Regions from separate parts of the Homo sapiens genome. Here region 2 is linked to region 1. Evidence: fine-mapped expression QTL. A gene starts in region 1. The other region holds a variant in brackets. All regions are shown on one strand. Distances are from middle to middle.

Region 1 (17,533 bases):
GCCAAGTGTGAAATTACTGGTTGAATTTTAATAGATGTTGCCAGATTATTCTCAAAAAAAGAATGTAATTCTTTTAGCGATGTAGAATGGTATCTTTCCCTCTGCAACCCTATCATCACTAAGTGATACCACACTTTGTAAGTCTTACAGTCTTTGGATATAAAATACCTTACTCTTTAATTTGCATTTCACTGACTACAAGTGTGTTTAAGCATTTTTTCATGTTTGTTAGCTTTTTAGACTATCTTTTCTGTAAATTGTCTCTTCATATCATTTGTCTAGGTTCCAAGTGAGTTATCTTTTTCTTATCAGTCTGTAAGAAAACTTTGTATAATGCAGATACTAACTCTTTTCTGGGTTTCCATATTTTACATATTGTTTCCCAGATGTCTATTTTAATTTTTATTAGTCTCTACTTCTAAACCTTTAATCCATTATATAAGGATCCAACTTTATTTTCTTTCAGATGGAAAGCTACTTGTGTTAATACCACTGTAATACAGAAACCATCTTTTCCCCCACTAAATTAACATATATTATTTTTCATGCATTAACTTTTCATACTTACTGAGAAAGAGCTTTTTAATCACAATGTTATACTGTCAGTGAGTCTGACAATGGGGGGGGGGGGTCCATGGTTTATTTTTAATTATATTGTAGGGATAGGAATCAAACTGATAAACCTCAGCAGTCAATATAACCTAAATCTCAAGTATGGCCACTGAAAGTTACCTGTTCTACTTAATTTTTGTTTTTTCTTAGATTTACCTAATTTGTCATCTATGTAAAATCTTCAGTATTCTTCAAGGGAAATGAAGGAAAGGAGAAAGAACTTTTTGATTTTTTATTTATTTTTATTATTATTTTTGAGATAGGATCTCACTTTGTCACCCAGGCTGGAATACAGGGGCACAATCTTCGCTCACTGCAGCCTCAACCTTCTGGGCTCAAGTGATCCTCCAGCCTCCGCCCCACAAGTAGCTGAGACTATAGGCACACACCACCATGCCTGGCTAACTTTTTGTATTTTTGGTAGAGAAGGGGTTTCACCATGTTGCCTAGGCTGGAAGAAATAGCTTTTTAAATCTGAAACTATATGACAACTTTAAAAGTTTTAGTGAAGTAAATATAAATTTTTCATTTCATCTTCATTCCTGGTTCCTTTTCTCTAATTTCAAAATTCCTACTTTACCTGTCAGTGAGATACTACAGACAATTTTCAATTTGCCAAGGCCTAAATTCTCTTCTCCATTTCCTTCCCCATTTCCCTTTTATTAGGGCCTGTAACAAGGAATTACCTGAGACAAAAAGAGAAAAAAATTATGTATGTTCATGCTTCATCTGCTAATTACAGAGATAACTCTGCAGAGGTTTAAAATCTTGAGTAACATTAGTTCATATATACAAATAACCTAAAACTGTTACTAGTTTTTCCAAGAAATTCCATGTATATTGAAAGTAGCTCTCCTTGAAGGATGAAATGTTTTAAAAAGTAAGAACCAAAAATAATTACAAAATAGAAAAAATACTAATTAAAATTAAAAACTTGCTGGATGGGCTCAATAGTGGAGTGGAATTGACAGAGAACAGGATCAGTGAACTTGAAAACAGATCAACAGAATTTACTTAGTCTGAACACAGAAAAACAGACAAAGAAACAAGAAAGGCATCAGGGACTTGTAGGACAATAACAAATGACCTAACATTCATCCAATCAGAGTTTTAGAGGAAGAGAAGAAAGTATGGCGCTGAAAAAAATAAAGATATAATAGCTGAAAACTTCACAATTTGACAAAAGACATAAATCTACAGAGTCAAGAAGCTGAGAAAAACCCTAAGTGGGAAAAAATAAAAATAAAAGATACATCATAAGTCAAGTTTAGAAAATTAAAAACAAAGAAAAAAATCTCAAAAGCAGCCAAAGAGAAATGGCACATTACCTTTAAGGGGAACAATAATTTGAATGCCATCAGATTTCTCATCAGAAATCATGGAAGCCAGAAAGAAATGGCACATTTTTCAAATGTTAAAGAAAAAGAACTGTCAAGGCCAAATTCCATATAGGACAAAACCACCCTTCAGGAACAAAGGGGAACAACATTCTCAGATGACGGAAACTAATTTGTCACTAACAGACATATCTTTAGGAGGTTCTCCTAAAAAAAAGTTCCTCAAACAAAAAGGAAATGATGTATCAATAAGGTTTAATTTGAGTAAAGGAAGAACACTGGAACGGGTAATAGTCATGGTAAATATAAAATGAACTATTCTTCATCTTATGAGTTTCTTAAATCATATTTGATAGTTGAAGTAAACGTTATAACAACATTTGATGTGGTGTTCAAGGTGTATAGAGAAAATACAAATATTAAATTTTAAAAAGGGAAAAGGAGAAAGGACCTACATGGAAGAAAGGTCTCTAAACTTCAATTGGCAAAAGGCAATAAAAGTATCCCTTGTGATAAGTTGTTACATCTATTGTTATACCCAAAGCACACTAAAAAAGGTTAACTAAGCCAGATACTCAAAAACACTATAAACATGTCAAATAGAATTCTGAAAATATTCAAGCAACCTACAGAAAGACCAGAAAAGAGGAACAGATATGAAAAACAGGAAATAAACAGAAAACAAATAATAAAATGGCTGGCTTAAGCCCTAACACAGCAATTACTTTTAAGTGTAAATGATATAACTATACTAGTTAAAAGACAGAGATTGGCAGAGAAGTTTCTTTTTTAAAAGACCCAAGCATATAGCGTCTATAAGAAATTCACTAAAACATAATGACATTGGTAGGTTGAAAACAGAAGTATGGAAAAGATATGCCATACTAACTACTTTTTTTAAGTAGTGATGGCTACACTGCCATCAGTTAAGTAGACTTCAGAGCAAAGAAAATTATTGTACAAAGATACAAGGATTAATTCATCAAGAAAACATCTTAAATGTATATGCACCAAACAACAGATATTTAACATGAAGCCAAAACCAACAGAGCTCAAAGGAAAAACAGAGACATCCATAATTATAGTTGGGATCTTCAGCAACGAAAATAACTATTAGACGATCAAGAAGACACAGAAGAACAGAACACCACCATCAATGAACAGGACATAACTGACATGTATAGAACACTGCAACCAATAATAACAGAATACACATTCTTTTCAAGCATACATGGAACATCCACCAAGATACACCATACCCTCAGTCATAAAAGAAACTTAAAAATTAAAAATTATACAGCTTATGTTTTCTGATCATTGTGGAAAAAAACTAGAAATCAACAACAGAAAAACAACAGGTAAATCACCAAACACTTGGAAACTAAATGACACACTCCCAAATATTTTCATGGGTCAAGCAAATTTCTAAGGAAAAATTTAAACTATATAGAACTGGATAGAAATGAAAATACAAGACAGCAAAATTTGTGAGATGCAACAAAAGCAATGCCAAGAGGGAAATTATAGCAATAAATGCTTACGTTAGAAACAAAGAAAGACCTTAAACTAATAATCACAGCACTAGACAAGAAGCAAAATAAACCTAAAGTGAGAAGGAAGAAAATAATAAATATAAGAGCAGAAATCAATGACATTAAAAATATAAAAATAGACAAAGATGAAATAAAGAGCGAGTTCTTTGAAAAAGGTCACTATAACCAGCAAATCATCACTGAAAAAGATAAAATGACACAAATTACTAATACAGTAGCAATAATGAAACAAGGGTTATCACTAAAAACCATGTAGAATACTATTACCCTACCAAAGCCTGACAAAGGCAGTACAAAACAAACAAGCAAAAAACTACAACACATCTCTCATACCTATACCTTAACCTCTCACACCTCTCTACCTATACCTTAACAAAATATTAGCAAATAGAATATGGAAATATATAATTATATACTTTAACCAAGTGAGATTTATACCAGTTGTGTTCAACATTTTAAAATCAATGTAACTCACCATATCAACAAGCTAAAGAAGTATTAATTCACTAAACATACACTTACCATATGACTTAGCAATTGTACTCTTGGGCATTTATCCCAGAGGGGGAAAAATGTATGTTCACTCAAAAATCTTCAGACAAAAGTTCATAGAAGCTCTATTTATAATAGTGTAACCCAAATGTTCTTCAATGAATGAATGGTTAAACAAACTGTAGCATAGCCATCCCATGGAATACTACTCAGCAATAAATAAAGAAATGCATGACAGATACACACAATTTGGATGGATCTCAAAAAGTTACATACGGTATGAGTCCATCTACACAATATCCTTGAAATGACAAAATTATAGAGATAGAGCAGTGGTTGCCACGGGTTAGGGATAGGGCTGGGACAAGATAGACTGACTATAAGGAGGCAGCATAAGGGAGCCTTGTGGTGATGGAATAATTCTTTATCTTGATTACGGTAGTTATAAGAAGCTACACATAGACCTGTGTACACACACAAATGAGTCCTTATAAAGTTGGTGAAATGGAAATATACTCTGTGAATTGTATCAATGTCAATTTCCCAGTTTTAATATCGTACCACAGTTATCCAAGTTGTTACCATTGAGGCAGGCAGTCTGAAGGGTACACAAGGACTTCCCTGTAAAGTTTTTTGCAACTTCCTCTGAATATGCAATTCTCTCAAAACAAAAAGGTTTTTAAAAAAGTTATTAATAATTATATATGTATTTAATTGCAACTGGTATAATAAGTGGTATGAAAGGGGAAAATTGGGAATCTTAGCACATAGCCCTATATAAACTTGAAAACATACAGGTGAAAGTCAACACATAAACAGATGATGCATAAACAGAATTCTTTTTACGCTTCTGCTGTAACTATGGGTATCCATCTCATCTTTCTCCAGAATAACATGTAAGAACAAGTAATTGTTTTCTATATCCTAACTTGATCACCATCTAGCCCCTTGCAATAAAACTACTGCTTTTTTTTTTTGCTTCTTTTTATTTGCAAATTATATTCTCTTCCTTTCTCATCAGACCTAAAAAGCAGGCAATTAATAGAACAAGAAATTGAAGGTCAAAGATGTTTACATTTTTTGTTCAAGGACATAAGCATTTAAATGGCAAAATAAATTCTACAGTCTTCTGATACCTATTCCAATATTTCCCAGTCACATATTACTTTGAAATATTATATAACACTAAAGAATCCAAAAAACAAACTGCAAAATACTGTAGGAGAAAGTCCAAGTGGTAATGAGTGTATGTTACACCAAGATTCTGTGTAGTTGTCTTTGCTCCTGCTTGATGTGGTTGCGAGATGAGCAATTTCACAATTCTTCTTTTAATGACTTTTACATTTTCACCTACTTTTGCTGTATTTGCTGTCTGAATGACTGCACACTAACCCCAGTGAGATTTTTCTTAAATCTGTGCAAGTGGGCCAGAAAATAAAGCTTAAATGATGAAGATAAAATCTATGACTACTGCTGAGGACATATTAAAAACGAAACCACACACTACACTCAAGATGAACTTGCTGAATTATCTTTACTGGAAAAAGGCAATTTGTTTTGCACAACTCCTTTGCAACTGTGACATCAAACTTTCTTGTAATTACACACACAATTTTTTTTTAATGTACCAGAGAGTAGCTTTCAGCTTCTGGACATCAATTAATGCCAAGAATTTCACAAGTGTACAAACTACTTACCTATATTAAATACACTCATTAGAAATAATATATTAATTTCCCTTTGGTTGAGGTATACTTAAAGTGACTTCAGAATTAAGTGCTCAATCTTAAATACATTATGGTAATACTACAAGGGAGAAAATGCTGAAAGCAGAGCAACATTTTAACAAAGAAAAAAGTCCTCGCAAATCAATAAACGTAATCCAGCATATAAACAGAACCAAAGACAAAAACCACATGATTATCTCAATAGATGCAGAAAAGGCCTTTGACAAGATTCAACAGCTCTTCATGCTAAAAACTCTCAATAGATATTGATGGGACGTATCCCAAAATAATAAGAGCTATTTATGACAAACCCACAGCCAATATCATACTGAATGGGCAAAAACTGGAAGCATTCCCTTTGAAAACTGGCACAAGACAGGGATGCCCTCTCTCACCACTCCTATTCAACATAGTGTTGGAAGTTCTGGCCAGGGCAATTAGGCAGCAGAAAGAAATAAAGGGTATTCAATTAGGAAAAGAGGAAGTCAAATTGTCCCTGTTTGCAGATGACATGATTGTATATTCAGAAAACCCCATCGTCTCAGCCCAAAATCTCCTTAAGCTGATAAGCAACTTCAGCAAAGTCTCAAGATACAAAATCAATGTGCAAAAATCACAAGCATTCTTATACACCAATAACAGACAAACAGAGAGCCAAATCATGAGTGAACTCCCATTCACAATTGCTTCAAAGAGAACAAAATACCTAGGAATCCAACTTACAAGGGATGTGAAGGACCTCTTCAAGGAGAACTACAAACCACTGCTCAATGAAATAAAAGAGGACACAAACAAATGGAAGAACATTCCATGCTCATGGATAGGAAGAATCAATATTGTGAAAATGGCCATACTGCCCAAGGTAATTTATAGATTCAATGCCATCCCCATCAAGCTACCAATGACTTTCTTCATGGAATTGGAAAAAACTACTTTAAAGTTCATATGGAACCAAAAAAGAGCCTGCATTGCCAAGTCAGTCCTAAGCAAAAAGAACAAAGCTGGAGGCATCACGCTACCTGACTTCAAACTATACTACAAGGCTACAGTAACCAAAACAGCATGGTACTGGTACCAAAACAGAGATATAGATCAATGGAACAGAACAGAGCCCTCAGAAATAATACCACACATCTACAACTATCTGATCTTTGACAAACCTGACAAAAACAAGAAATGGGGAAAGGATTCCCTACTTAACAAATGGTGCTGGGAAAACTGGCTAGCCATATGTAGAAAGCTGAAACTGGATCCCTTCCTTACACCTTATACAAAAATTAATTCAAGATGGATTAAAGACTTAAATGTTAGACCTAAAACCATAAAAACCCTAGAAGAAAACCTAGGCAATACCATTCAGGACATAGGCATGGGCAAGGACTTCATGTCTAAAACACCAAAAGCAATGGCAACAAAAGCCAAAATTGACAAATGGGATCTAATTTAACTAAAGAGCTTCTGCACAGCAAAAGAAACTACCATCAGAGTGAACAGGCAACCTACAGAATGGGAGAAAATTTTTGCAACCTACTCATCTGACAAAGGGCTAATATCCAGAATCTACAAAGAACTCAAACAAATTTACAAGAAAAAAACAAACAACCCCATCAAAAAGTGGGTGAAGGATATGAACAGACACTTCTCAAAAGAAGACATTTATGCAGACAAAAAACACATGAAAAAATGCTCATCATCACTGGCCATCAGAGAAATGCAAATCAAAACTACAATGAGACATCTTCTCACAGCAGTTAGAATGGTGATCATTAAAAAGTCAGGAAACAACAGGTGCTGGAGAAGATGTGGAGAAACAGGAACACTTTTACACTGTTGGTGGGACTGTAAACTAGCTCAACCATTGTGGAAGTCAGTGTGGCGATTCCTCAGGGATCTAGAACTAGAAATACCATTTGACCCAGCCATCCCATTACTGGGTATATACCCAAAGGAATATAAATCATGCTGCTATAAAGACACATGCACATGTATGTTTATTGCAGCACTACTTACAATAGCAAAGACTTGGAACCAACCCAAACGTCCAACAATGATAGACTGGATTAAGAAAATGTGGCACATATACACCATGGGATACTATGCAGCCATAAAAAAGAATGAGTTCATGTCCTTTGTAGGGACATGGATGAAGCTGGAAACCATCATTCTCAGCAAACTATCGCAAGGACAAAAAACCAAACACCACATGTTCTCACTCATAGGTGGGAATTGAACAATGAGAACACTTGGACACAGGAAGGGGGAGATCACACACCGGGGCCTGTTGTGGGGTGGGGTGAGTGGGGAGGGATAGCATTAGGAGATATACCTAATGTAAATGACAAGTTAATGGGTGCAGCACACCAACATGGCACATGTATACATATGTAACAAACCTGCACGTTGTGCATATGTACCCTAGAACTTAAAGTATAATTTTAAAAAAATTAAAAAAAAGAAAGAAAAAATCCTCCAGTCTGAAGGCATTAAGTTATCAAAAAGCAAAATATTAAAATATAAAATTTTAGATGGGCACCCACTGTGTTGCCCTGATTATCCCCCTAGAATGCTACATGCTGGAAAGAGGGGCCTTAGCAGGTTTCTAAGTCTTTAACCTTCAGGTGGAAAAATGGGGAAACACACAAGAGACACTCCTACGTATAGTTTCAGAAAGAAGTTTAATTAAAAAACAGCTTTTGAGAATAAACATTCTGGAGATGCTTCTAAATCTTCTGGGTTTCTTTTGGTTGTATCTCTTTCTCCATACAGATTTGTTCTTTCAACTCAAGGACTATCAACTCTTTTTTTTTTTTTGAGACTGAGTCTCACTTTGTCGCCCAGGCTAGAGTGCAGTGGCGCCATCTCGGCTCACTGCAAGCTCCACCTCCCGGGTTCACGCCATTCTCCTGCTTCAGTCTCCCGAGTAGCTGGGACTACAGGCGCCCGCCACCACGCCCGGCTAATTTATTTATTTATGTATTTATTTTTGTATTTTTAGTAAAGATGGGGTTTCACCGTGTTAGCCAGGATGGTCTCGATCTCCTGACCTCCTGATCCGCCCGCCTCGGGGTCCCAAAGTGCTGGGATTACAGGCGTGAGCCACGGCGCCCGGCCAGGACTATCAACTCTTGTGTTTGGTACACAGGACACAAAGCAGGTGTCCGGTAACTACTTGCGAGGGAAGATACGAATTAACCAAGGAATAAAGTGTTCCAATCTGCATTCTGTCTTGCGTGGGGAACAAAACCAAACTAAGACCCAAGGATGAGGGTTTACGGTTAAGGTCTTCAGCGTGAATAAAAGGCGGCGTGAGCACTAAACGCCGGGGGCAAAGAACACTCCCGGCCCAGAGTTTGACCCCTCCTAGCGAGTTCTTCCCGGCCAGCTGCCCAACTTTTTGGCCTCTACTCCTCCGCGGGGGCACCATAAGACTCCCTACAGGTGGGCTACACTTAGGGGTTCAAATGCTGCATTACCGCGCTCGGGTGAGCGACTGCCCGGCCTGCAACTCAAGGGACTCCCAGGCCAAGTGGCTCCGAACTCGCGAGCTGTCGGAACAGTATTATTTTTGCTGCTACGGGCCATCTGGCCCAGGGCAACAGGGGCTCTGCGAGGAACCATAGAGAAGAAGGGGCGCCAGATCCCGCGTGCCTGCCCACCCGTCCTTCCTTTGGGCAGTCACCCTGAGCTCGGCAAGCTGTACCTCACCTGTCCACCTGGAAGGCTGCCCGCTCTCCCTGAGGGTCCTGGGAAGGCGGCACGAGACCGGAAGTGCCCCCCTCAGGTGACGTCACAGTACCGCGCCGGAGCTGATCCGGGAAGCCGATGTCAGCCTGGCGCGCGGCGCACAGCTGGCTGGGAGATTTCTTACTGGCTTGGAGCCGGTGGTCCAGATCAGAGAGACCTCTTGGAGGGTGTCGGGGTTTTCCTTTCTTTTTCATTTGAATTTTATCCGCCTTTTATTTTCTGTCATCCTTGATGTGCTTCTGGCTTCTGGCTTCCCTTTCCTTCTCTCTCATTTGTTCCATGTCTGCCCCTCTTTTCTCCCTCTTCCCATTTCCCTCTTTCTGCGTTACTAGTTGCATATCTTCCCCACATACACAGGAAAGTTGATTCTCATTTGATCATGTTCATAAGCATGATCAATAAAGTATTTTTTTAATTAAGGTGTTGCCAACTTTAAGAAAATTCAGAGAATAATATTAAGTATAGAGTTTATTTGGGCTCAGTGCTTGAGAATGGCCACTCAGGAGCTTAGATTCAAGTTGCCTTGAATATACACTCCAATTAGCAGCAGTCGGAGTAGGTTTTTTTTTTTTTTTTTTTTTTTTTTTGAGACGGAGTCTTGCTCTGTCGCCCAGGCCGGACTGCGGACCGCAGTGGCGCAATCTCGGCTCACTGAAAGCTCCGCTTCCCGGGTTCACGCCATTCTCCTGCCTCAGCCTCCCGAGTAGCTGGGACTACAGGCGCCCGCCACCGCGCCCGGCTAATTTTTTGTATTTTTAGTAGAGACGGGGTTTCACCTTGTTAGCCAGGATGGTCTCGATCTCCTGACCTCATGATCCACCCGCCTCGGCCTCCCAAAGTGCTGGGATTACAGGCGTGAGCCGGTTTTTAAGGAAAGGAGAGGAGGCAGAGCTTAACTTGTTTACCAAGAATTTATATTTAAAAAACTTAAGCTATTGACTGGCTATGCTTTCTTCCTTGTATCACAAATTCCAGGAACATAAAGATAATGGGTGAGGCAGCTAATAAAGAACAAAATGCCTTTAACAATTGCCCTAAGGCATGGGAAGGCGTGGCGGAAGCCAGTATTCACTTCTGTCCGGGTCTAATAAATTTTGCATACCTCACATAGCTCAGACAGCTCTGGGCTATTTTTCTTTTCTTAGTATGTACTTTTTTTAGACATAATACTGTTGTACACAATAATCTACAGTACAGTGTAAATATAAATTTTATATGCACTGGGAAACCAAAAAAATTCTGTGAACTGCCTTATTGTGATGTTTGCTTTATTGTGGTAGTATGGAACTGAACCCCCAATATCTTCAAAGTATGCTTGGATTTAAAAAAGAGGTTTACTTAGCTCATGGTTCTGCACATTGGAAAGCTCAAGGGGCATAGTGTGAGCATCTGCTCAGTTCTGGTTAGAGTTTTTTGTGCAGTGTCACAACATGGTAGAAGGTCAAAGGGGAAGCTGATACATGTGAAAACAGACCAAACAGGAGGTGGAAAACAACCCACTCTCTCAGGGACTCTCTCTTTTCCAATCTCTCAAGAGCTGTTATCAAACCAAACTGGAGTCCAATTGCCTGTGCAGCAAGACCAAACACTGACATCAGGATTATAGTGAAAGAAAGTGAGGCATTTATTGTAGGGTCCCAAGCAAGGAGAACTGGTCAGTTAGTGCTTAAGTCTTGAACTCCCTAATTGTTTATAGGTAAGGGTTTTTAAATGCAGGGGTGTCAGAGGTTATAGGCAAAGTCATAAATCAATATATGGAGGTTATATATTGGCTTAACCTAAAAATGCAGTGAGGTAGGATGCAGGAATTGGACACCAGACCAAATTGAGGACTAGCTAAAACAGGGGCAGGGAGGAAGCAGCTTTCCATATTAATGCCCCTTTCCATGGCAACAACCTGACAACCCAGAGGTTACCACCCTTTTCCTAGAAATTTCTGCATAATTCACCCCTTAATTTGCCTGTAATTAAAAATGATTATAAATATGACAGAAGAACTGCCTTTCAGATGCTACTCTGGACACACTGCCTATGGGGTAGCCCTGCTCTGCAAGGAGCAGTATCTCTGCTGCTTCTGGACACTACTACTTCAGTAAAAGTTGCTATTTAACACCACCGGCTCACCCTTGAATTCTTTCTTGGCGAAGCTAAGAACTCTACTGGGCAAATCCCCAATTTGGGGCTTGCCTGCCGTGCATTGGCGGGGCATCTCAAAGAGGGGGGCCCACAGGTCATAGGTGGAATTTAAGGATTTTCTGATTTGTGATTTGTTAAGAAGGTGAAACTCTCTAAAAATTTGATATCAGCAGAAAAGGATATTAGCTTGGGCTCATGGGCATGGCCTCCTTTAAGCACCTCAAGAAGAAATTTAGAACAAAGAATAGTAGTCAGAGTTTAGCCTTCAATTCTCCCTTATTTGAGGCCTGTGTGCCAGTGGATCCATTTAGTGGGGATCTGGGTTTCTGAAAAACAACTTGGGACATATGTTAAGATGTTACCTTTAGTTTTTATAGGAAATACAATATCCCGTGACATTAATTTTTTGGCTATTGTTTTAAGCTCTTATTATCTTCTTGCTTTTAAGTTTGTTTTGTTTTTGTTTTTGTTTTTAGGACTAGCTAGATGTCTGGAATTTTCTTTAAGGAAGTCAAGATTTTTTTTTATTTTCATCTTTTGGTGGAGAGTGCCCTGCAAGCCCTTAAGAGGGGTCTCTGCTGTGTCTCAGAACAAGAACTGACTTTGGCGAGAACAGCAACAATCTCTTCATGAGGGATCCACCCCATGACCCCAACACCTCCCCATAGGCCCCACTTCTGAACATCACCACACTGGGGACCAAATTTCAGCATGAGTCTTTTTGGGGACAAACTATATCCAAACCATAGCAACACATATTGTGATAAGAAATAAACCTTTGTTGCTTAAGGCTTTGGAGGTTGTTGCTGTTGTTTCTTACCACAGTGCCACACAGCCTGTCCAGATTGATGCAGAGGGACAGCCACACAGAGATTCTTTTTTCTCCCTCTTTCGATTTTAATTCCTAATACCCGGGGAAGAATTTCTGATTGGCTCAGCTCAGGTCTTGTCCTAGTCCATTTTCTGTTGCTTATAGTAGAATACCAGAAACTGGCTAATTTGTAAAGAAAAAATTATTTCTTACAGTTATGGAGGCTGAGAAGTCCCAGGTCGAGGGGCTATACCTGGTGAAAGACTCTCTGAAGAGTCTTAAGGCAGCACAGGGCCTCACTTGTCCAGGAGGCTGAGTGTGCTAGCTCAGGTTTCTCTTTCTTTTCTTGGAAAGCCACCAGTTCCCCTCACATGATACCCCTTAATCTAATTCATTAACCTATTGATCCATTAATCTATGAAGGAATTAATCTATCCATGAGGGCCGAGCCCTCCTGATTCAATCACCCCATAAAGGTCCCATCTTTTAATACTCCCCTTTGGGGATTAAATTTTAACATGAGCTCATAAATATATACACTTACTATGTACCCACAAAAATAAAAAACAAAACACATTATTTAAAATGAAATAAATTTCAACATGAATGCTATGGTTTGGATATGGTTTGTTTTGGCCCCCACCAAGTCTCAGATTGAAATGTGGTCCCCAGTATTGGAGATGGGGCCTGGTGGGTAGTGTCTGGGTTGTGGGTTGTGGGTATGGATCCCTCATAATGGCTTGGTGCCATGCTCGCAAGAGTGAATGAGTTCTTGCTCTGTTGCTTCCAATGAGAGCTGGTTGCTAAAAGAGCTGGCACCCCCTCCCTTCTCTCTCTTGCTTTCTATTGCTGTGCAGTTTCTACATACCAGTTCTCCTTCATTTTCCACCATAAATAGAAGCAGCCTGAGGTCTTCACCAGAGGCAGATGCCAGCACCGTGCTTCTGGTACAGCCTACAGAGGTATGAGCCAAACAAACCTCTTTTCTTTATAAATTACATAACCTCAGGTATTCCTATAAAGCAACACAAACAGACTACAACAATGAGTTTTGGAGGGGACAAATATTCAAACCCAGTACCAATTTTCTGTCTTAGCCCATTTACTGTTGCTTATAACAGAATACCTAAAACTGGGTAATTTATACATTTTATTTTATTTAATTTCATTTTCATTTTTCACTGTAACCTTGAACTTCTGGGCTCAAGCTATCTTCCTGCCTCAGCCTCCTGAAGAGCTGGGACTACAGGCATGTGCCATTATGCCCGGCTAATTTATATATATATATTTTTAATATCAGTCTACCACTGTAGACTGATATAAATTTTATACACACACACACACACACACACACACACACACACACACATATTTAGAGATAAGGTCTTGCCATGTTGCCTAGGTGTGAGCCACTCTGTCCAGCCTGAAACTGGGTAATTTATTTTAAAAACAAATTTATTAGGCCAGGCATGGTGGCTCACGCCTGTAATCCCAGCACTTTGGGAAGCCAAGACGGGCGGGTCACTAGGTCAGGAGATTGAGAACATCCTGGCTAACACGTTGAAACCCTGTCTCTACTAAAAATACAGAAACAAAATAAACCAGGCGTGGTGGCGGGCGCCTGTAGTCCCAGCTACTCAGGAGGCAGGAGAATGGCGTGAACCCTGGAGGCGGAGCTTGCAGTTAGCCGAGATGGCGCCACTGCACTCCAGCCTGGGTGACAGAGTGAGACTCCATCTCAAAAATAAATAAATAAATAAATAAATAAATAATAAAACTAATTTATTTATTACAGTTCCAGAGGCTGAGAAGGCCAAGGTCAAGAGGCTGAAGCTGGTGAGAGCCTTCTCGCCAGTTCCACTCCTGTGATAACCCGTTAATCTATTAGCCCATTAATCTCTTAGTCCATGAATGGATTAATCCATTCATAACAGCAGATCCCTCATGATCCAGTCACCAACATAGCAGGTCTGGTGTCCAGCAATCATTCAATTGTCAATGACAAGTGCTTGTGGTCATATTGACTTTTTGCCATAAGTAAGAGGATCATAGTGAATGGGGCAGACATTCCACGAAGATGTCTACTATAATCACAAATGGCCATAAAGTCAGACCACTGTAGACTGACTTAAAAACAGTAAATGAAAAGCTATCGTCTTTTGCATAAAAATTTTAGACTCCCGTTACTCATCCATTTTTTATTGACTATCTGTCACATTCCAAACACTCTTCCAGGCTAGGAATACAAAGGCAACTCAAAGAGAAATGTGATTGTTCTCACAGACACAATAAACAAACTAAAGAAATTAATATATAATGACAGTGCAAGGGGAATTAAAAGGCAAGGTTAGAAACAGAGAGCAAGGAGTGCATTGGTTACTATTTATCCAGTTGCACCAAAATATATCAGCTTAAAACATAAAACATTTATTATCTTACACAGTTTCAAAGGGTCAGGACACCAGTAGCAGCCTAGCTGAGAGGTTCTAGCCAAGTCTTTCATGAGGTTCCTGTTAAGCCAGTTGCTCAGGGTTACAGCATCTCAAGCCTTGACTGGGGCTGAAGAAGCAAGACTAGATTATTTGGTTGTTGGCAGGTCAGACTTCCTCAATGGCTGTAGGCCACAGTTCTTCACCATGAGGACCTCTCCACAGTGCTGTTTGAAATATGGCAGCTTTCTTCCATCAGAGGAAGAGACAGAGAATACAGAGACAGTACCTAAGACAAAAGCCACAGTCTTTTATAACCTAATCTCAGAATTGGCTTGCTGCATCATTCCCTCAGTGAAATGAATCACTTATCACTTCTACATGCTATTTAATGTGGGAAGATATGTGAATTCTGAAAGGCTGGGGCTACTGGGGACCATTGTGGAGATGCACTGCCACAATGGTGCATTACTTTATATCATGCAGGCAGGAAAAATCCTGTCTTAGGTAATTTTGAGAAGAGAGCTGCATGAAACTAGGAAATAAATGTTGGATAAGGAGAGTGGGAGAATCCTTATATACTCTACTCTCACACGCCTCTTGTTTTCATTCTGAACTCATGGCTCATATTTTCTAAATTATCATAAGATAATCATACGGTCCCTTGATACTCTCTCTGTAGTACTATTTTGAATTATTATTTAATACCTACATGGAATTTTAAAGCATTTTATTCATTTATTTATTTTTATTTTTTATTTTTTGAGGCAGGGTCTCACTCCTGTTTCCCAGGCTGGAGTGCAGTAGCATGATCACAGCTGACTGCAGCTTTGACTTCCTGGGCTCAAGTGATCCTCCCACCTCAACCACTGGAGTAGCTGGGACTACAGGCACATGCCACTACACCCAGATAATTTGTTCTATTCTTAGTATAGATAGGGTTTTTCCCTGTGGCCCAGGTTGGTCTCGAAATCCTGGGCTCAACTGATCCTCCCACCTCAACCACTGGAGTAGCTGGGACTACAGGCACATGCTACTACACCCAGATAATTTGTTCTATTCTTAGTATAGATAGGGTTTTTCCCTGTGGCCCAGGTTGGTCTCGAACTCCTGGGCTCAACTTGTCCGCCCCCTCAGCCTCCCAAAGTGTTGGGATTACAGGCGTGAGCCACCACACCTGGCTGGAATTTTTAAGCATTTTAAATTTTTCTCTAAAACTGTAAATTTTAGGGAATTCTGCTACTTTTAGGGGTAAAAACCATGCAGTTAAATTAGTTGCTCTAATTCATTATTGATTTGTATTCAACTCAAAATACTGGTTTATTATTATTATTGTTATTCCTAATACTAAATAAATCTGTTGAAATCTAACATAGATCTTAGTGTAAGGCACTGATAGGGTTTGGCTCTGACTTCCCACTCAAATCTCATTTTGAATTCTAATCTCCACCTGTCGAGGGAGGGATGTGGTGGGAGGTGATTTGATCATGGGGGTGGCTTCCCCCATGCTCTTCTCCTGATAGTGAGTGAGTTCTTACAAGATCTGATGCTTTTAAAGTGTTTGGCAGTTTACCCTGTCCTCTCTCTCTCTCTCTCTCTCTCTCTCACCTGCCATGTAAGATGTGCCTTGCTTCCTCTTCACCCTCCACCATGATTGTAAGTTTCCTGAGGCCTCCCCAGCCATGTGAAACTGTGAGTCAATTAAACCTCTTTCCTTCATAAATTATTCAGTCTCTGGTAGTATTTTTATAGCAGTGTGAAAATGGACTAATACAGGCACATAGAGAAATGTGAAATCCTGTATGGTGTATTTGGTTGGATAGCAAAGCTGAGCGTAGTTCCAGCTAAGAAATGGAATAGAAAGTGACATTTTAGCTGATAGTATGGCATTGGAATAAACAAAACTGAAGCAATGGGTGACATGGGGACCTTTTTTTTTCTCTTGTCTAGTTATCTATTCCCACCCCACCTCTCCTTTTTTTTGAGACAATGTCTCTTTCTGTCATCCAGGCTGGAGTGCTGTGGCATAATCATGGCTCACTGCAGCCTCCAATTCTTGGGCTCAAGGAATCCTCCCACCTCAGCCTTCTGCATAGCTAGGACTACAGGTGCAAGCAACCAAGCCTGGATAATTTTTTTTTTCTCTTAGAGATAAGGTCTCACTATATTTCCCAGGCTGATCTCAAACTCTTGGGCTCAAGCAATCCTCCTGTCTTGACCTTACAGGTGTGAGCCACTGCACCTGGCCCTCTTATTCTTTTCTAATAATACTTATTCTTTCTCCTAGGAAGCTCATGTGTTTAGGGCGAAGCTCTAGGACGACCCTTGATTGGCTTAATCTGTCATCATATTCCCCTTCCCTGGCCTTAGTCACTAGTTCCTGGCTTGATCTGTAACCTAAGCCCATTCTGTCAGGGTGAAGCGTGGGATGCCAGGCAAGTTGTGTTCTTTGTCTTTCCAGATAATGTGCTATATGAATATGATGCCTAAAATTGCTGCAGACGTTTGGTCTCCATGATGCAAAGTTGAAATAGGGAGAAGTAAGACATGGAGAGAATCACAGAGAAATGGAGGCGGGGTTCTGATCATCATGCATGAAGTCTGCTACTCTTTGGACATTCCAGTTGTGTGAGCCAAGAAAGCCCTATTTTTAAGTCAGTTTCAGGTGTGTTGTGTTATTTCCAGCAGAGAG
Region 2 (12,767 bases), 140 kb before region 1:
GCCTTTGGCTGGGCAAAGTTTGGGCTGGTGCTTCATGGCGGCAGGACCAATTACAGCAGAGCAACCCAGGATGGGTGGTCATTGAAAAATGGGTGTGAAGTCACTGAAAAATCAGACTGAGTTTCAAGTTATGCTCACAGTTGCTGAAAAAGCAAAAATATGCCCTTAGAGCAGCAGAGCAGCGTGCGATGGTCCACTTCCTCCTGCCTCTGCAGAGCTTGCAGGCCTCTTCTAGCATCTGTGCATGGTGCGCATGTGTCTGTGACAACAGAAAGGGTGGGTTTCTCTCACACGTTTCCCTGACAGTGGCAAGGGGGCTGCAGCGGTCACAGAAACTTCCGGAGAGAGGTGTTTCTGTGCAGTCAGGTGAATTTGTTGGCAGGACAGCTTGGTGTGATGATACAAGAAGTACAGTTTCACTCTTTTTTTGTCAGATGAACTTCCTTCTGCTAGTTTAGAAATGCTTCACTCCAGAGAGGGCCACCTGATAGAAGCTGTATTACAGAAACTTTTAATCTCTTTTCTATGTCAGTAAGGGGATGCTGAAATAAACTGTCTAGAAAAACAAGAAGCTTCTGTCACACCCAGGCCACTTTCGGCAGAGTGGTCCAGAGCGGCCAGGGCACGGCCAGCTGCTTTGCATCTGCATTCCCGTTTCATTACCTTTTGTGTTGTGGGCCAACAGGAGTGCTACGTAGTGGGGGCTGGAGATTTGTCCAGGCAGGAGGTGGGCAAGTGGCTGTCTTCTCTGCAGAATACCTGCACTGCTCCATCTGACCAGCAGTGGCAACAGCCACAACCAGTTCTGCATCTAGCTCCTGCCCAGACCTTTGGCTGCCAGAATCTAGAACCATGGCTGACCAAAGCGAGACTTCCGAGTAAGGTTCGTTAACAGGCATCCTGCTGAATTAGAAGGAAACAGGAACGAATCCAAAGCAAACGGGGCTAAACTTCCCTCGAGGACATTTCCTGAGCTGCAACATGGGAAGCGACAGCACCGAAGCTGGTGAGCTGGTGCAACTGCACACACCTTTTCTCTGGTTTTTAGTACTCACAGGTCATCCTGGGGAGACCGCTCATGGGCTATGGGCAGCCCATGCCTGGATTTTTTGGTGAATGAGTCTGAAAAGCAGTGACCAGGTGTGTTGAGGGCCTCCCCTTGCCTGCACCTTTTTATCTCTGAGTGACTGAGGGCTGCCAAGGCCAGACAACGCACATGTGTCCTGGATCCTCCCCTGGCCTGGGGCAGCAGCAGCAGCAGCAGCTGGGCTTGGGGTGAGTAGGCTGGCTTGAGGAAGGGGCTGCCCACAAGCAGGGCTCATTTCCTGGGTCAGGGCCTGTCAGACTCAAAGTCAGCTCTTCAGCATTCTGTTTAGAAAATGATGATGCAGTTCAGTGAGAAAGAAAGCTCAGGATAAAATATGTTTTCTGGAGGGGAAATACTCAAGTGTTCTAAGCCAGGAACAGAGACTCTCAAGAGAGGAATTCTCTGGCATTCTCTGCCTTGGATAAATCATGGATTAAACATGAGCATCCTTAGAATAATTTTATTTTTGTATTTCACTTTACACTGTAATGCAAACAGCTTTTATGTTTTCTTTGACGAAGAATCATAATTGAGTCACTTTAGGTCTTTTAGCTGGAAGCATTTCACCCTAAATGAAAAGTTAATGCATTTTTTACAAGGATTAACATGCTAACTACAACTTGCCCTTTCAGCAGATGACAATAAGGGATTCTGAAAAGTTTGGACTGTCTTTTTCTTTTTGTATACAAATAAAGCAGCAGATCCTTTCTCTGTGAAGGTTGTTGCAGAGCTCCCGTACCAGCTTATAAAATGCGGCTGTTTAAGCAGGACTTGGGTGGGCAGCAGAATTCTGCACATGACGAGTGGCTGCAGCTTAGAAAGCAAATTTCATCTGATTCCAGTACTGTGATTTTAAGGAAACGGTAAAACTCAAAGTGCCAGTAATGCCATCAAGGCTCAGTAACATGCCATTTCCTCAGCAGCTAAAGACAAAAAGAATTATTTTGGTGAGGGGATAGAAATCCTTTCGCTTTGCAGTGACACCCACTTTTTCTTAGCTTGGCTTGGGAGTAAGGAGATTGGAGTGTGGGGGGACATTAGAAACTCATTTAAGGCAAACTGAAATCTCCTTCATCAGCAGTCTTCCTGCTGGTGTAGCCACAGCAGAACTCCGAGGCTTGCAGGCTGGGCTGTCTCCTTGCTGCCTGGCTTGGGTGTTTATTTGGGCAATGCAAGCTGACATTGTGAGGTGTTGCCGATGCCCAGGCCAGCTAGCAGGGAGCCCTCCCAGGGCTGGTAGAAACCTATGTGTATATATATTCTCAAATTTAAATAGATTGTACATAGTGAAATGTAAATGACATGTAAAACAGCAATCTCTATTTTTCTTAACTATTATATAGCAGTATATATTTGTTGAACATGCTTGTATACTCTTCATTAACCATTTTAATATTTTGTACAGATAAGTTGATTAAATATTTTATTCATAAAACCGCTCATGACTGGTCTCTAAAGGAAAACATTTTCAGCTTTTGTTACTCAGCCTTTCTGTGTTACTGTAGTCCTCATTAATAGAATAGCGACCAGCTATTGAGGCCTTAGGACTGACTGCATTTTAATAGTGAGAGTGACATAACAGGCCTGACTCCACTTGCCTTTGTGCCGATCATTCCCCTGTATTGTCAGATCAGGTGTGAGGCTGTGGGCCTCTGGTATGGGGGGCTGCACCCTGGGTCTTGGTGACTGGTATGAAACTGTATATGATGCTGCTGCACACAGCCTCACACGGCATGAAGTCACTGCAGAGCAAGGTAAAAAACATCAAGCTTGGGTTCAGGAAAGGAGGCCAAAATGCAGTGGAAAACATTTTCTCTTTGGGAAATGAGCATGATAATGTGTAGAGTGAGCACTGTCATTCCAAATGCAGTTTGGGTGGACAGGTTTTCTGTGTTTATACATCTCAGACTGCTGCAGGACCTGTCTCACTCCAGAAAGCATGAGCCCTCCCCACCTGGAGGATGCACAGGTAAGTCTCTGAAATCCCAAGGCATAAAGTCCCATGGAAGCCGCTTCCTCTGCAAGGCCAATTACATACGTCACAGAACCCAATAAGGTCCTACAGCAAATTCGACAGGCCTTTTTTTT[T/C]GCCCAGTACTCTTCGAGACAAGTACAAAAGCCTGTGCTTGGTGACACCACGAAGGATGCAGCAGGACAGGATCAACCACACAGCGTTCTGTTGCTATCCCAGCTCTCACAGCTGACTTTTGCCCAGATGGAGAAATCTATTTCATGTGTTCCTTAAATATTTCTGGGAGAGGACTAATGACAGAGCAGGAATTGTAGGAAGTTGACAGGGACTTGGCCTTATTAGTGACTGTTACCAGGATTACCTCTTTTGCGATATGAAGCCTGCTGGAGTGACCCACATTTTCGTCAGTGATGGCAGCCCATGTTCATGGTGAATTCAATATCCCAGTTTGTTAATGCAGGTCCCTGTGGTTATGTAACTTTCTCTCTCTGGTGAAAGATCAAGAAAGCCTGCCTTCTTTTCACCACTCGATTTCCTATTATAAATAAAGGAGTCTCTTCTTTGGAAGAGAAATTGTGTTCCCTTTCCAACTAACTCATTTGGCAGGTACAATCAATGTGTAAGTTCTATGACCCTGCCATCGAAAACTGGAATGTCTTGTCATGCTTTGTTTATAAGCATCTTTGGTCCATTTTTCATTTTCTTATTTTTCAGTCTCCATTTGACCTACCACAGCATTCTGTGGTTAGAGTACACATTCAGTAGAGGAGTAGTTACAGGGAGAAAGGAAAGTCGGGAGTGGCATTAAAAATTTTATCCAATTTCCCAGACACTGATAAGAGCAAATCTAAAAGGCCCGTCCATGACTAATGGTAAAGGCGGCTAAGATTGACTTCTCCACTCCTTCCCTGGTCCTGTCAGGTCCTGGATCTGCCTCTGATGCCTGCTCATTTCCAAGCAGGCCAAGGCAAAGATGCCTCCAACTGCTGTTCCATTGAGGGTGGTGCCCAACGTGGTCATGGATGCATGTGCTCTTGTGTCCTAGGAACCCTGTGACTCATCTGCTCAGAAAGGACAATGATCTGGGGAGAAACTTGTCCACTGTGAGGTGCCACCAGCATGCAGCCCTATAGGCTGTGGGTGTCTGCCGAGTCCTAATCACATGCAGGTGCGTGGCCCTTCACAGTGGCCAGTAGGAGGAAGCCCAGATGTTCTGCAGAGCCTGAGCTGGATGGATTTGCAGAGGCGGGATTCTAGTCCCTCTGTGAGGGAGGGAGACCCTGCAGGTGCACCGCACCCCCTGGCTGTAATGGACGCCCAGTCACAGGGTCACATTCTCATCCCAGGGAAGAGGAATTTTCCCATAGACTTACCCAGCAAGGAAATCTGTCCCAATGTGGGGAGGTCAGCACAGGCCCCTTTGCCAGAATGTTTGAGGAATGCAACACAAAATGAAAATGCTCGATTATCCCAGAGCACAGTCATGTGTATTGTTGCTGTAATTCCCACTCGGGGTGCTGCGCGGGGTTAGTGCTCAGCAAATAATAAACTACATATTTGGTAGTTGCTAATACCCAAACTCCAGAGGTTTTCTAATTGTAGAAGAATGGAAGTAACAGTTGCAGCCATATCAGACAAGATGAATGGGACACAAGGGATAGTGGCCTTGCTTCCTTGCAGTCCCCCAGTGCCAGACACAAACAGTCTGCAAAGATTCAGACATCCTTGAATCTATCTGACCCAGTTGTGCACAGCTCTGCTGGGGAAACACTTAAGGGATAAAAGAGCAAGTGTCCATGTCTGCACTCCCACTGATGTGTCAGTTTTAAGATGAAGAAGCCCAGAGATGTGATTTCCTGGTAGTCCGACCCAATGTGAGAATTGCACTTTTTCACAGCTTGCCTATTAGGTATGGTAGAAACTTTTTATTAATTTAGATAACAAAATTTATAGACTACCCTGTGTAGCAGGCCATATTTGATATGCCCTGACAGCACAGAGATGACTAAGACAGAAGGTCATCTTCTAGGACTCTCCTGAGAGAAGGGGTGTTGGTGGAGGCAGGGAGGAGCAGACTGCAGAGACACAATCCCGCAGCAATGATAAGTCATTCAGTAGACACAGGCCAGGCCAGGGGTCATGAAGACTGGCAGGGCATGGAAGGGTGGGAAGGACCGCTCTGGGAGGCAGGAGCAGTTGGTATTTTAGGCCACGTCTCATGGGGTGGGGTAGAGGATGGGCGTAATCAAAGCTGGAGCAGTGATTCCTGTACAGAGGAGTCCACAGGAAGCTCCCGTGCGTGGCATAAGACCAGGTGGCTATGGAAGAGTTGCAGAGGTGCCGGCCATGTGGCTGCAGCCACAGCACTGACTCCCAGCATGTGGGCTTGCTTTCTCTCAATCCACTGCCTGATGCATATTTTTGCCGTCTGAAAACTGGTCTCTGTTATAGCTTTCATTCTTTTAAAACTACTCATTTGTTACCAACGATCTACTCGTCACTTCTTCTGTCAATCGGGTCCTCATTTGCCCTTTGCGTGACTCTCTTTCCCGGCTCTCCACTTTTGCTAGGCTTGCCCACTGTGGCCTCCAGGAGGCAGCATGATGCAGTGGAAAAAGGGGATGAAGTGGTGGCTCTGGAGTAGAGGCCTGAATTGGAATCTGGCTTAGTTCATTTTCTGTTGCTATAATGGAATATCAGAGACTGGGTAATTTATAAAGAAGAGATTTATTTCTTACAGTTCTGGAGGCTGGAAAGTCCAAGATTGAGGGGCTGGCATCTGGTGAGGACCTTTGTGCTACATCCTCCCTGGCAAAAGGTGGAAGGGCAAGAGAGCATGAGAGAACAAGAGATCAAACTTGCAGCCTAATATTGTGGCTTTTTATCACTGGCATTAATCCATTCAGGAAGGAAGGGCCCTCATGACTCAGACACTTCCTGTTAGGACCCACCTCCCAATAGTTGCATTGGGGATTAAGTCTCTAACACACGAACTTTGGAGGACATGTGCAACTACAGGAGAACCCCAGCTCTGTCATCTATTAACTGTGAGGTCCTTAGCAAGGCACCTCAGTGGTAATCTGTATAATGGGCATAGTCAGAACATCACAGGATTGGGAGGCCTAAGTGAGACACTGTGAAGGTGCTGGGGTGAGCAGCATACTCCTTATCTGGATTAGCTCTCATCTATTCCAAACCACCTATCCAAGTTCTACCTGCCCTTCTAGGACTAGGGGCAACCTCATCCTCTTCTCTCTTCCAAGAGCTTTGTCTTTATAGAACCCTTTATAGAACCATAGAACCACCCAGAGCTTTCTTTGACCCTCGTTCGTGCTCTGAGGATGCTCACCCAGCATCACACTCAGTGACGCCGGTCTTGCTCTAGAGATGCCTTCAGCCTGGTGGGAGAGGCCAGACCCATGTCCCACAGACACTCCTCACCTGGGCCAATGTGATCACTTACCCATGTCTGTATGGGGCACAGGCAGGAATCTCAATCCTCTTAAAAAGTGATTAGAAGAACACTCATATGAGCTTTGCTGTCCTCAGCACTCCTGCAGAAGAGCTTCATTCAAGGTCCCACAGATGTATTTGTTCACAGAGCACACTCAGTCCCAGCCTCCAACCTCTCCTTAAGGCCCACCCCTAAGGGAAGGAGCAGCCCAAATATATCCTTGCCTCTTCTCTTCTGCAAGAGAAGGCCAGGGATGAAGATGTCTCAAGCCATCTAAGAAATGCTTTGCTTCCCGCATCTTTTCTAAATCGACTGTTAGAACATCCTGGGCTGTGTGCAGGGAGGCCTGAATGGGCTGAGGCCAGAAAGCTGAGCCAGGTGAGCAAGTGTTATCCCTGCGTAAGAGCCAAAATGCTGACTGCTAGAATCAAGTTACAAGCCTGGTGAAACAGTGCAGGGACTGAGATACCACAGGGTCCTCTGCTACACTAAAGAGAAGAGAAATGAAAGGAAAAAAGGAAAAACAAGTTTGCTATCCTCCTTTAGGTACCATTTTATAGAGAATCCACCATATGCCAGGCAACATACTAAATGCTATATGCATGACCTCATTTTATCTCCATTAAAAAAAAAATGAGGAGCTGGGGGACTCAGGGAGGTGAAGTGAAGTCTTATGTCACAAACCTAACAAATGACAGATCTGGGATTTGAACCCAGGTCTTCATTTACTGCGTACAAGAGGAAATAGCCTTTTTGGAAAAGAAGCAATGAGACACGGATGCAGGAGATAGCATGGTGGGGTTTTAAAAATAATTATTTTTACAAATTCTAAAACATCTCAAACTTCCAAAAAATCTGCAAGTACAAAGAACATTATTTTCCCCTCAACCATCTGACAGTAAACAGACATGATGCCCCTCACCCCCAGATACCTCAGTGTCTCCAGTACAAACAAGGACACTCTCTTACTTCTTCCCAGTACAACCACTGAAATCAGAAAATTAACAGTGGCATCTTACTCCCAGCTAATCTTCAGACCTCATTCAAGTTGTGCAAATTGTCTCAACAATGTCTTTTATAACAAAAACATCCAATTCAGAATCAGATGTTGTGTCCAATTGTCATGTCTCTTCAGTCTCCTTTAATCTGAAATTGCTTTTTTTTTTTGCTCTTTTTTAAAAATTATTTTAGACACGAGGTCTCGTTTTTTGCACGGGCTGGTCTCAAACTCCTAGCCTCAAACGATCTTCCCAGCTCATCCTCCCAAGGTGCTGGGATCACAGGTGTGAGCTACGGCACCCAGCCTGTTTGTTTTGAATATAATGTAGGATGAAGAAAAATCAAGCCTTTGGTGGTCCGTGTCTCTCCAAAGGTTGAGTGGAGAAGCGTATGGTGAGAGGCCCTTGGTGGCCATGGACATCAGGCCACACAAGCCACAGAGGGCTTGTGGAGATGCTTATGGCTGGGAACAGACTAGGAACAAACACGGGTGTGGTCAAAGCTCAATCGCTGAGCACTCGGTAACTCTGCAGGAAGTTAAAACTTTCACAAAGACCATCCATGTGGTTGACTGGGACATACAGGCAGAGCTGCTTCTGGAAAATGGATTTCTTCCACTGTTTGTCCATTTTAGTCTAATCCCTAATGAAACAGAATGAACTTCAGTCTCTTGAAATCTGATTCTTCCACCTATGAAAAAAGCAATGAGAAAGGTGGCTTTTCACTTTAAAAGAGAGACTTTGAGCCGAGTCTAACTCAGGAGAACTGCTCAAATTGTACCCTCTCTTGCCCAACACAGAGATCAGGCCAGACCAGGTCAGAAATGCTGGTAAAACATTTATTTCAAAAATTCATTTGGTTTTCAGATGATAAATAGGAATTAAGAATGAGTATCTTTCTTAGGCTCTAAAAACCAGAAATAAGACACAATTTCATACGTGCAGACTTTTGAAATATGGAGTAACATTTAAAATAACAGATAAAAGAAAAGCTCTGAATGTTACTCTTTATTCTGGTAGGTATGATTTACCCAGTATTGTTTACATGCCTTGATTTAGTATCAGTGAGTATCTCCTGTATGCAAGGCGCTCAGAGCCATGATTCCTAGCTTCTAACATCCGATTTCTAGGCCTCTCATGCAGATGCCAATAAAGGATCTGTGTACAGCCCTGTGCTTACGGCCTATGTATCTATTAGCTCTTCCCCTTGGGCTAACAGCACTCCTTGTCTGGAGCTTGGCTTTTCCCCTCTGAGAAGTCACTTGCTGTGATGTAGAAGCTATGCCAAAGCACAGTAACTCATTCAGCACTTACCAATAAGTTGGCAGCAAATCAGAGCCAAATCTTTCATCAGGGGGCTTTAGGATTTGAGCGGAGGGACATCTCATTGTCCTTAGGGAATGATAATGCCATGAGGGATTTCCTCTAGGAGAAAAAGGAATATTTCTGATCCATGATCAACTGTCACTGCAGTATGTGGTTCTCAAGATTGAGTCAATTTAGGGGAGGCAGCAATATTGTCAGCCCACTCTAGGCCAGGGAATATGTGTCTTCTCTGCCATACCTCAATGTGTCTAGAGAAGGTGAATTCACATAACTTAATGGCTGGGTTTGGTTCATTAACAAAATAATTTCTTTCCAGCAAATGAAGTTAATGCAGAAATGGAGAGTTAATGTATGGCAATGTTTTACTGAGCAGTTTAAAAGAAGCTTTTAAAAATTATTCACTAGAAGATTTCCAGAAGAAAAGAATCATTAAGTAGCTAAGAACTCCATCCTCAATGGCTAGCACACTATTTGGCTCATTGATGGTCTTTAATGGAGTTTTAGTGCAAGAATTACAGAAGGAGCAACTGTACGTTGGCACATCCAAGCCTGCTTTGGGACAGCCCAGTGCCTCTCCATCCTGGCTCTGGAGAGGAGGAGCCTGCAGGGAGCTTATAACCTGGGAGGCTAAGGCTCAGCATAGAACTTGCTGGTTGTCCTGTGGCAGGAGGCACAGTTGGGGTCCTTCAACAATTCTTTATCTGGTTAGCTGACCAGAGTAATGTCTGGTGAACTTTATTCTCTGTCTAGTGCAGGTACATTAGACGTCACATTGATGATCTCAGCCAAGATCTGTGCTAAGTTAGCCTGGGCTCATCTTCATCTTCTGTCTTACAGGAGACCCAGGTTCACTTCCTGCTCCTGGAACATGAGTGTATCCTTGTCATAATCTCATACACTTCACATATCTAACTATACTCTTAACATTCACTGATTTATTTTACATTTTCTAGTAGGTATTTCATAATTTCCTCCAGAGGAGCCTATTCTACAATGTAACTCAATTAAAATCAAGTACATGTAGATTTTTTTTTCATCTGCAAAGATCCTGCCTACCAAAATAAACCATATGGTGCCACTGGGCATCTTGTGCAAACACAAGACTCTGTGTAGATCACTGTGTTCCCTGAGTCTTGGAAAATGTATGGTTAAACCTATGGAATGATTCATCAACTGTGTTTACTTCAGCCTATAACATGGCGAGCGGAGAGTTGGTTTGTAAGACAAAGGTTCTCACTTTCTTCATTTCTAATATCAGTCTTCAAAATTAAACATTTACCTACTAAGTCTAGTACACTGACTGCCTCCATGTACTGGCAGTGGGGGCTTGTTCCTCAGGCCAATTTACATTTTGGACAAGTCATCCTTTAGGGAGTCAGCAATCATGTCTGCCATTTCCTGGTTAAAATGGGTGATGAAAGCATGAGGTATGTTTTTCTCACAGAGTCGAATGTCTCCTTCTGGAAAATCCTTCTTAATGTCTTCATAGTACTCTTTTGGACACCAAGGATCTATAGTACCATAATAAAATGTAAGCTGAAAGACAAGACAAAAACCTTTTATTAGAAAACACGTTCCCTTCCTGACACAGATATGACACCAGCAGCCGGCAGTGCTCTGAGGACAGCACCTACGCCTGACCCTGGGAGCTAGTCCCTAAGCTCTCTCCAGAGTGTGGCTCTCTCAAGGCAGCAAGGCTTCACGATGTACAGGAGTGCACTTAGAAGAATTTGGTGGGAAGATCCCCATGCTGGGAGACTCTTGTGTGATAGATCACTCATAATTCACTGAAACGACTTACCAGGAAAGTTTTGTGTACTAAGGTTGGGATGGACACTGGAATGAAGGCCGGTGAGGATGACGAAGACAGTTATTGAGACATAGTCACTGAATGACTAGTGACCAGTTAATAAACTTAGTTGTTTCCAAATAGCCACATGGTAGTCATATGGGATGTATTTGTTGAATGAATACAAACACAGATCAGATAGACTCAGGCTTTCCAATGTAGCTGATGAAATGTGATCAGAATCCTGAGAGAGTTTATGACCTTTCTAAGAAAAGGCTCTATGCAGCCTGTATGTTGATTCAGTGGGGAAGTGCAATAATCATACTTCAATTGACAGCAAGCAGCTGAATGGAGACAGAGCCTCCTCTGTGGCATTACTAAGACCCTGAATGGATATCTACCTAAACCTGCATGTGATATATATGTATATTGCTCTAGGCTGCTGTGTTTCACTGAAAAACTGCTATGTTCTAGTTCTGTTAGTTCTAAAAATAAAGGCAACAAAGCAACATCTTATATTCAGAAGAACAGATAGTGGCAATTTCTACAAAAACCAAGAACTAAATCTTAAGGATCCTTTGACCTCTGTTATCACTGAAAGACAGAGCTATGCCTAGCTCCAGCCCCTAGTTGGCCAGCTGTAGTCACTTGCAGCTTCCCTAATATACCAAATGTGCTCCTTCATTCAGACACTGAATTGCTTACTCATTCCTTTGTTCATCAAATACAAATGGAGCACCTACTTTGTATTAGGAACCTGGAAAATAGAGATAAGACAGTCTTGGGGGGAGGGGAGAAGGGGACCCCATGTATACAAGACAATTTGAGAGCTCAGGTGAGGTGCAGCTGGTCAGAAGTAGTAGGCAGGAAAGATTCCCCAGAGTTGATGCCTCAGTTGAGTCTTCAAGCTGGGGCAGCACACTGTGGGGAGAAGACCAAGCAAACCAAAGCTTGAAAGAGCATGGCATGTGTGGGGAACTGGAATTCCACATGGCTGGAATATAGGGTGGTGGGAGATAAGACTGGAGAGGCAGAGAGGGATGAGGTCATGGACAGCATCTTCTATGCATGCCAAGGAGGTTGCGCTTTATCCCGAAGTCCACAAGGCAAAAAAGACTGCACAGTGAAGTGACATGCTGAGGTCCCTATGTCAGGAAAACCACTCTGGCCACAACGAGAAGAAGGATTGGAGGTGATCAAGTGCTGGGGGAGGAGAGTGCAGGGAAGCAGGCGTTATTGCTCACTGGATAGTTTGAGTGTATCAATTATTAAATCCATGACCTGAATATGGGACAGATGAGACTGATCTTACGAAAACAATGGCCTTCATTACAATAACATGATGCCTTAACCAATATTTAGATGGTTAGTTAAAAACACTTTATAGAGGAAAAAATTTAACATAGTACTCCAGAGAGTAAATTATGAACAAGTAAACCTCAAGTGGCAGACTTACTCTGAATTGCTTCATGGAGGTTTCCTTTTTTTTTTTTTTTTTTTTTTTTTAATTATACTTCAAATTCTGGGACATGTGCAGAGTGTGCAGGTTTGTTACATAGGTATACACGTGCCACGGTGGTTTGCTGTACCCATCAACCCGTCATCTACATTAGGTATTTCTCCTAATGCTATCCCTCCCCTACCCCCCATCCCCTAACAGGCCCCGGTGTGTGATGTTCCCCTCCCTGTGTCCATGTGTTCTCATTGTTCAACTCCCACTTATGAGTGAGAACATGCCATGTCTGGTTTTCTGTTCCTGTGTCAGTTTGCTGAGAATGATGGTTTCCAGCTTCATCCATGTCCCTGCAAAGGACATGAACTCATCCTTTTTTATGACTGCATAGTATTCCAGCTTCATGGAGGTTTTCTTGGTTGTTACCTGGGGTTCCAGTTTTGCACGCTGCAGAGGACCTGCAACTTACAGATTTATCACTTAATTCATTCTTTGCATTCTCCTACTTTTCCTCACTCCAACCATTTCTGGGCATTCCAAAGCCCCTAAAGCCAGAATTCATTTTGCCATGGTTCTTAGCAGAGTAAGAACTTCTTTTGCTTCCTAGAGAATATGAGAGCCTAGCAGTTGCCTAGTTCTTCCTCCTGGTCTCAGCTCTTTCTGTAGCTCTAAAATGCTGCAACCTCAC

What was found. PIP is the estimated chance that this variant, and not a neighbour inherited with it, causes the effect.
Region 2: its variant is fine-mapped to the expression of LDAH in whole blood (INTERVAL, PIP 0.99).

What each region holds. Positions count from the first base shown.
Region 1 is chr2:20,813,611-20,831,143 of GRCh38, forward strand. It overlaps LDAH (lipid droplet associated hydrolase), which reads right to left and starts at 9,491. Exons shown (of 7, transcript NM_021925.4): 1 at 9,427-9,491. RefSeq lists enhancers at 8,367-9,192, 8,995-9,064, 9,285-9,674.
Region 2 is chr2:20,676,722-20,689,488 of GRCh38, forward strand. GDF7 (growth differentiation factor 7) reads left to right here. Exons shown (of 2, transcript NM_182828.4): 2 at 1-2,522. LDAH (lipid droplet associated hydrolase) reads right to left here. Exons shown (of 7, transcript NM_021925.4): 7 at 7,310-10,373. The coding sequence ends at 10,182. Among named protein-coding and RNA genes, the nearest start is that of GDF7, 16 kb to the left of the region's middle. RefSeq lists an enhancer at 1-223. The variant T/C (reference allele first, on the strand shown) is at 3,176.